2 linked regions of the Homo sapiens genome follow. The protein of the gene in region 2 purifies or fractionates together with the protein of the main gene of each other region. This does not show direct contact. Each region holds a gene or a part of one and is shown on either strand. Other genes may lie near its edges.

The links.
Region 1: the proteins of GLI3 (region 2) and WDR11 purify together in Homo sapiens (co-immunoprecipitation; one study listed by IntAct). This does not show direct contact.

Annotation. Positions count from the first base shown.
Region 1 is NC_000010.11:120,864,752-120,868,571, forward strand, and holds part of WDR11 (WD repeat-containing protein 11), read left to right. Parts: intron 1-295; coding exon 296-461; intron 462-878; coding exon 879-993; intron 994-1,817; coding exon 1,818-2,013; intron 2,014-2,314; coding exon 2,315-2,418; intron 2,419-3,820. UniProt on the Homo sapiens protein: Involved in the Hedgehog (Hh) signaling pathway, is essential for normal ciliogenesis.
Region 2 is NC_000007.14:41,964,578-41,968,397, forward strand, and holds part of GLI3 (transcriptional activator GLI3), read right to left. Parts: intron 3,347-3,820; coding exon 3,019-3,346; intron 2,065-3,018; coding exon 1-2,064. UniProt on the Homo sapiens protein: Has a dual function as a transcriptional activator and a repressor of the sonic hedgehog (Shh) pathway, and plays a role in limb development.

The sequences.
Region 1 (3,820 bases), on a different chromosome or scaffold from region 2:
TTATATTATCATTTACCATGTCTTGTGTAATATTAATAACTTAATATTCTACTACTTAATATTTCAAAAACTTAGAAACACTGACATTTCTACCCATCCTATACAATATTATTAGCATTTGGATTTTGGTACATAGTAGAGATCTAAGTTTTGGATGCCAACCCATGTTGGTCACTTCAGGGAATAGTTGTACATTTTTATTGTCAATTTTTATGTGTAAAGTACAAAATTAAATCTTTTATTAGGTCTGATATAAATGAAGTCTTTGACCCAAGTGAATGTTTACTTTTTTCAGTGCTGAATTCATAACTCTCAATGATTGCCTTCAGTTGGCATACCTGCCTTCAAAAAGGAATCACATGTTGTTGCTCTATCCTCGAGAGATTTTAATCCTTGACCTTGAGGTGAATCAGACGGTGGGTGTGATTGCAATAGAACGCACAGGAGTTCCATTTTTACAGGTATCTACAATTCATAAATTATATTCCCCAAAATTATTAAGAATGTTATATTAAAAGAAGGCCATAATCTTGCATAAGTCTTGTCTTCAGTTCTCCACTTTCTCTTTTCAATTTATCAAAAGACTAGCAACACTATTTTAGATTGTTTTTTTTGTCTGCACTTTTGATTGGTTTGATTTACCCTAGAAATTGTGACTGATCCTGAGATATTTATTGAACTATTTAAGTCACATGGGTAAAGACAAATTATTTTAGGATTATAAATGGATATTTTAAATGTACATTTAGTTTTAAAGTTTGGGATTTGTCTATTTTTTTTTCTTTTGCCCATATTATCTAAATATGAGTTTGAGTTTCACAGTATATACTTTATTAATCTATTGTGTTTTAAAAAATAAATATATCATCTATTTAAAGGTAATACCCTGCTTTCAGCGTGATGGTTTATTTTGTCTACATGAAAATGGTTGTATAACTTTACGTGTTCGAAGATCTTATAATAACATTTTTACCACTTCAAATGAGGAACCAGGTGAGTTTCTGTCTCACAATAATGTTATATTTTTCTTCAAAATTATTTTATAAAGCTTGATGTGGCAAATACCAGCCAAGGTATATAGTTAATGATACTCCTTGCTTTGAGGAAGTTTAAAATATGGTTATAATAAGAGGCATAAAAAGTATAAGCCCAAGATTAATCTCTTGATGTTAAAACAGTGCACCTCCTGTATACATCAAAGAGAGTAAAATTTTGTGTTTCTTGATCATATCCATGAGCCAAGTAGATATTATTTTTTGGAATTTTTTTTTTTTTTCAGTACAAGTCCAACCTTGTGTGCCTTTATTATTATACCCCCTTGACTTGTTGGCTGTAAGAACTTCCATTGTAAAGTGACAGAGGTTATTAAGTCTCAGTTGTCAAGTCAGTCTTATCTTGGAGAATGGAAATAATGTTTTTGTGAAATTATATACTGTGTAAAGATCAAAGTGATTTTCACATCTTTTGGAAAGTACAGTTATTTTCAGGCTTATAGACTACTACAAATTATGATGGAAATTTATTCATTAATTATATATCACTGTTGATCCTTTTTCAAAGTATCGTCTTTATTTTAAAATATTGAAAAAAGATATCTTGATTATAGTTGTTATTTTGGAAATTAAACTTAGTACAGTCATTAAGTAAATTATATTTGGAAAAAATTTAGTAGTAATTGTAAAAAGTGAAGCCATGCTTGACATTGCATTCATGAAGGAGTGATGCCCAAATTTAGTTGAGGTTTTATTTAAATTGAAACAAACAGTAGTGGTATCGATATGGCTGCTTTCTGATATTTAAAACAATTTTATGTGAAGATCCAGATCCAGTTCAGGAGCTTACCTATGATTTACGAAGCCAGTGTGATGCAATCAGGGTGACAAAAACCGTCCGTCCCTTCAGTATGGTGTGCTGTCCTGTCAATGAGAATGCAGCCGCCCTCGTAGTGAGTGATGGCAGGGTCATGATATGGGAACTCAAGTCTGCAGTTTGTAATCGAAATTCACGGAACAGGTAAATGAATCAACAGGATCATGGTTTTGTTTTTTGTTTCCTGTTTCCTTTTATAAAAAATTTCCATAATCATAAAAATAGGAGGGCTGGTTTTCTATAAAAATATTTTTAAGGTAATAATTAAGGCTTTAGATTATTAGGGAATTATGTAAATCTGCTAGAGCTATTTCACCTATGGGTAAGATGAATGAATAATATAAAAATAGATAGAATGCCATAATCTGGACTTAATACTTTGAATTCCTAATACGTAATGCAGATTTTAAGTATGTAAAACCTTCTAATTATTATGTCTTTGCAGTAGTTCTGGTGTGTCACCTTTATATTCACCAGTGTCTTTCTGTGGAATTCCTGTAGGAGTGCTACAGAATAAACTCCCAGACCTTTCCTTAGATAACATGATTGGTAAGCTTTTTTCCCCTCTAACTCCATGTTAAGTATTCTTTCTGAAGGGCAAAATTAATAGAATCACTCACTTGTAATTATTTTAAAGTCAAAAAAGTTAATACTTGAGAAAACTAGAACATGGAATCATTCTTTCCTAAATAAATCAGAGGGGTTTAAAATACTTAGGTAGAAAAGTGCCTGAAGTAGCACGGGTTTGCATTATAGTTGTTAGAAATAGAAAACGTTCATTCGTGAGAGACTGATGTAAATGAAAGCAATGACATTAGGCATCTGGATTTTGGACCTAGAGCCGATGCTGAGCTATGCCATGCCAACTCAGGGCCTTGCTGTTTGCTGGTTCCTCAGCTTGGAATGAAGTACATGCTTCCTTTCTGTCTGCTACTCCTAATTCAAAATTCAACTCAGATGTTGTTTTCTTTAATCTCCCAAGTCTAATTTAAATGCTCTTCTTTTGTTTTTCCTAACAGTTATCAGCATATTTTAATTGTGGGTTTTTTTCTTCTGTTTCATCTCATCAATTGTAAGCATCACAAGGGTGGTACAGTGTTTGATTCTATTTTGTCTTTCCCAGCACTCAGCACAGTACCTTGTGCATGCCTGTTTTGTAGTAAATATTTACTGAAGGAATAAAGTAACTGAGCAGTATTAGAAAAGATTATTTTAACTTTTTGACATGAATTATTTTTATGTTGGGGATTCTTTCAAAAAATCATTTTTGGAGATAAAGTGTTCAAAGTTATTTAATTATGAGGCCAGTATGTATTAAAGGAAGAATGAGAGTTTGTGATTTCAAATTTTATGCTACTTGAAATTATAAGGCTTTGTAAATATGCCAAGCAATTTGGACATCTAATTTTTTTACAGTTGTGGCTATGGTTTATAAAGGATTTTCTGTTTTATTATTTATTCTACCATAATATAATTGAAAACGATATTATTTAGGAGGGTTTTTTTGTTGTTGTTGAAACGCTAAATAAGTGATGCACTAGAAAGAGCATTGGCCAGGCGCAGTGACTCACGCCTGTAATCCCAACACTTTTGGAGGCCGAGGCGGGAGGATCACTTGAGGTCAGGAGTTCGAGACCAGCCTGGCCAACATAGTGAAACCCTGTCTCTACTAAAAATATAAGAATTAGCCAGGTGCAGTGGCATGTGCTTGTGGTCCCAGCTACTTAGGGGGCTGAGGCAGGAGAATCGCTTGAACCTGGGAGGCGGTGGAGGTTGCAGTGAGCCGAGATTGCACCACTGCACTCCAACCTGGGCAACAGAGCGAGACTCGATCTCAAAAACAAAAAAAAAGCATTACATTATTAATTACATTAATTAGATCACATTTATTGGGTACTTCATACTGTGTTAAGTGCTGTGCTAAATATTCTACATATTACCTTGGTACAGC
Region 2 (3,820 bases):
GGTCATGGCTGTCGAGGCTGTCCACTGTGCTTGTCACCTGATTAGCACCTGGGGAAAGTAACTCAGAGTTTTTGGCGCTGGTCCCCTGTAGCAGGCAGCTGGCGTCTGAAATAGAGAATGAACCAGCTTTCGTGTCTTGCTGACTGAAGCCCACGGTTTGGTCATAGAACTGACCAGAGTAATTCTGCAGATTAGAGCACAGCGGATGGGGCTGCCCTTTCATCTCCATCTTGATACCATTCACCCTGCAGGTCTGACTTGTGTCACTGAGCTGTCCTGACTGCAGAGCAAGGCTGTCCCTCGGCATAGCCTGGCGCCTGCTGCCCCCAAAGCTGGCACATGGCTGGTAGCCCCTGACAACTGCCAAGCTTGACGGCTGGCTGCCCATGCCGTGAGCCCCTGGCAGGCAGCTCTCTGGCCCTTGGTAGATGTTGATGTGTGAGGTAGCACTAATCTGCCCAAGCATCTGCTGACCGGGGCGGCCTGCCCCCGGGTGCTGCATGCTGTCGCCGAGGAGCTGGTGAGCCAGGTACCCCTGTCCCACTGGGTCCTGGTTCTGCATGCCATTCACCATGCTGCCAGCTGACTCATTTGGCGCTACCGGCAGGCCGAAATTCAGCTGGCCCCCGCTCCCTTGCATGGGGGTGCTCTTCAGCTTTGAGGCTTGAATCCCGGCACCACAGGCACCGTCGAGTGCACCAGGGGCCACTGGCTGCCTGTTGAGACAGTTCCCATACTGCGGGGCCTTACAGGGCTGTTCATGGAAGGCGTTTCCACTGGTGCCACTTCCGGGGCTGTTGTGGAGCATCAAGTGCTCTGGGCCACCGTAGGGGTTGCTGTTCTCCCCGAGGGTCTGATAGCCCCCAGCAGGCCCGCTCCTCAAGGGGTTCTGCGGGTGGACGACCATGCCGTTGCAGAACCCAAAGGCGCGAGTCTGCGGCACAGCGGGCCGCGGCCCACACTTGAGCTTGGAGGAGGACAGGTCGGCGCTTCCGGAGCTGACTTCGTTCCACTGAATGGGCAGGTCGGTTTTGCTGCCCTCGGGGCAGGGCTGCTCGAGGGCATGGAACTGCTGGCCAGCGTGGCTGTCTGGCAGCCCGGGCGCGTCAAAGTCACCGGGCCCGTGGGGCACTTTGCTGTCGTCCGGGAGGGCGCTGGGGAAGTGCTGCTCGTACCCTGCTTGGTTCTGGGAATTTAAATACTGCACCACGTCGTCCGGCAGGAAATCCTCATCGTTCAGGTTGGCATCAGCGTCCATGGTCAGGGACTCCAGGGTGACGTTCTCGGTGATGCTGGGAGGACAGGGGGACGAGTGGAAGTTTCGGGACTGGCCGCCCTCGGGCCGCGTGTAATTCTGAAGCACGAGACTGCGCTTCTCCGCGGACGTGGCCATCGCCGGGGGGTTGCAGCTGCTGAGGCTGCTGAAGCGCGGCACACGAGGCAGGGCCAGGCCCTCGGAGCCTGTCCGCACCGGGTCGCTGGCCCTCCTCACGCCGTGGCCCGGCGCATCGTGCGGCTGCAGGTGGCGCCGCCCGTAGCCGTGGGCTCCCCCGTCGCTGCACCTCCTCGGGGCATGAACTGGAGGCAGGGCCACGCCAGGCTCGAGGGCATCCCCGAGCAGCGCCAGGCGCGTCTTCAGGCTCATCCTCTCCATGTTGGGCAGGGGCGTCGGCGGCGGCCCTCCTGTGGCAGCCGCGTACTTGGCCTTGAGGCGGTACTGCTGGGCGGGCGTGAGGCTGAGCAGGCTGGGCAGGCCGTCGCTCTGGCTGGCTTCGCTGGAGCGGCGCGAGGCGTCGGTGGAGATGGGGTCGTAGGAGTCGGCCACGCTCACGTTCTGCGGCCGGCCCTCGGCCTGTGACGCCTCGCTGGAGCGGCGGCTGGAGAAGCAGGGCGAGATCCCTGAGGAGCGGCGGCTGCTCAGGTAGGCCGAGCTGATGGTGCTGGCGCTGCTGTCCCTTCTGTTGAGCATGTTCAGCATAGTGACGTCCACCCCAGAGAGGTCGCTTCTGCCCGGGAGAAGCGTCATGGGCCCACCCAAGCTGCAGGTGTTGTTGGACTGTGTGCCTGGAGACAGAGAAAGGGAGAGACCATGCGGAGATGAATTCCCTTCGAGCATGACTTACACCAGGCATGAGCAACCCTTTTCTGTAAAGGGCCAGCTAGGAACTATTTCTGGTGTCCCAGGCCACATTGCCTGCCTCACAACTACTCAGCTCTGCAGTGTAGCCCCAACACGGCCACAGAGAGCAGTGAGCAAGCAAGCGTGGCGGGGTGTCCATGAAGCTTCCTTTACAAAAACAGGGGCGGCTGGAGATGGCCGCAGGCTGTAGTTTGCTGATGCCTGGCTTAAACAAAACAATAACAACTCCCTCGATTCACTGAAGCCCCTCCCCAAGCGCTGTGCAAGGACAAAAAGAATCTTGTGATGGTACACAACGCTTGAGTTCCAGGCAAGTCCCCAGGCAAAGGTACTCCACGAGTTTCACATTCACGCTCAGGGCGTCCTGTTCATGCCACATCCTACCAACAGGTAACACCTGTGTTGGTGCAGGCAAGAGCTTCACCCCTTAGGTGCTCTCAGAAGTGTAATCTCAGAAGTGCAAACTGACCTGGGGACTGACAGTGGGGAGGGATTTCTGACTTTCCTTGAACTGGGTAAATATAAATAAAAGTGGCTGCTAACCTCGTGGTTTTAAATTTTGGAAACCAGAGACAGAGTTCCAACCACAGATGCCTCCACTGCTGGCATTCCCTTACCCTAATCTAACAGTTATGATTTCACCATCAGAATATGAGTCATGCACAGTCACATTTTTTTCTCAATATTATCCTGTTCCTAGCTGTTTTTAAAATATGGACAATCCCAAAAGGCAACTTGAATGGGCTAAACATTAACGGATGGTTACAGCGTCATTTTAGGACTGGTGGAGAAACTAGCAAACATAAAACTGAGGGCCTGCATTTAAAAGAACAGAAAAAAAAACCCTGAGCAGATGCATGGTCTGATGTAGAACTCACCATTTCCTATGAGAGGAGAGACCGCAGGGGCTTTAGGGGGTAGAATGGGGTTCAGTCGCGGAAACATTCCATTCACTTGTTTTAGCCTTTCTAGTTTTACGTGCTCCATCCATTTGGTCCCTGCCGGGTTTCTCCTGGCTTGCAAAGCAAGGGCTGTGGTTGCAGTGGAAATGGTTGAGTCCATGATTGGGGTTTCATCGATGGCACTGAGGTCTCCTATACTACCTCCATCGGTCAGAGGAAGCTCGAGCCCACTGTTGGAATAGTTGCTGATGGGGGACTGTTGGCTGCTGCATGAAGACTGACCACCAGGGCTTGGCTGAGATGTCTGTTGGGGTCAAGTGGAAAGGAAAGAAATGTCACCAGGGAGGGTCAAGGAAAGGGAGCCAATAATGAGAGCTCATGCATATCGAGATCTTCAAGATCATCAGTTGGTTGAATGAGAAGAAAAACTATGTTCTGGTGAATGGAGCTGGCCACTTTTGGCCAGAATGACGGATGGACCACCAGGCTGATGGGCAACAGGAGGCAATGGAAAGCAGAGAATGCTAGCTGCAGTGTGACTGGCATGGTATCAGCCATGGAATCCTGCCCCAATCGCCAACTCTGCAGACATACTTCCTCGGTTCCAATCCCATCTCCACCACTTTATTCTTTGGGCACATTACTTAGCCACTCTAAACCTCAGTTTCCTTATCTATAAAACAGGGACCATTTATTTCAGGGATTGTTGTGAGGAATTAAGTGTGAAGCCCAGAGAGCACACAAGTATAAAAAGACCTGGATAATAGCAATTGGTTCA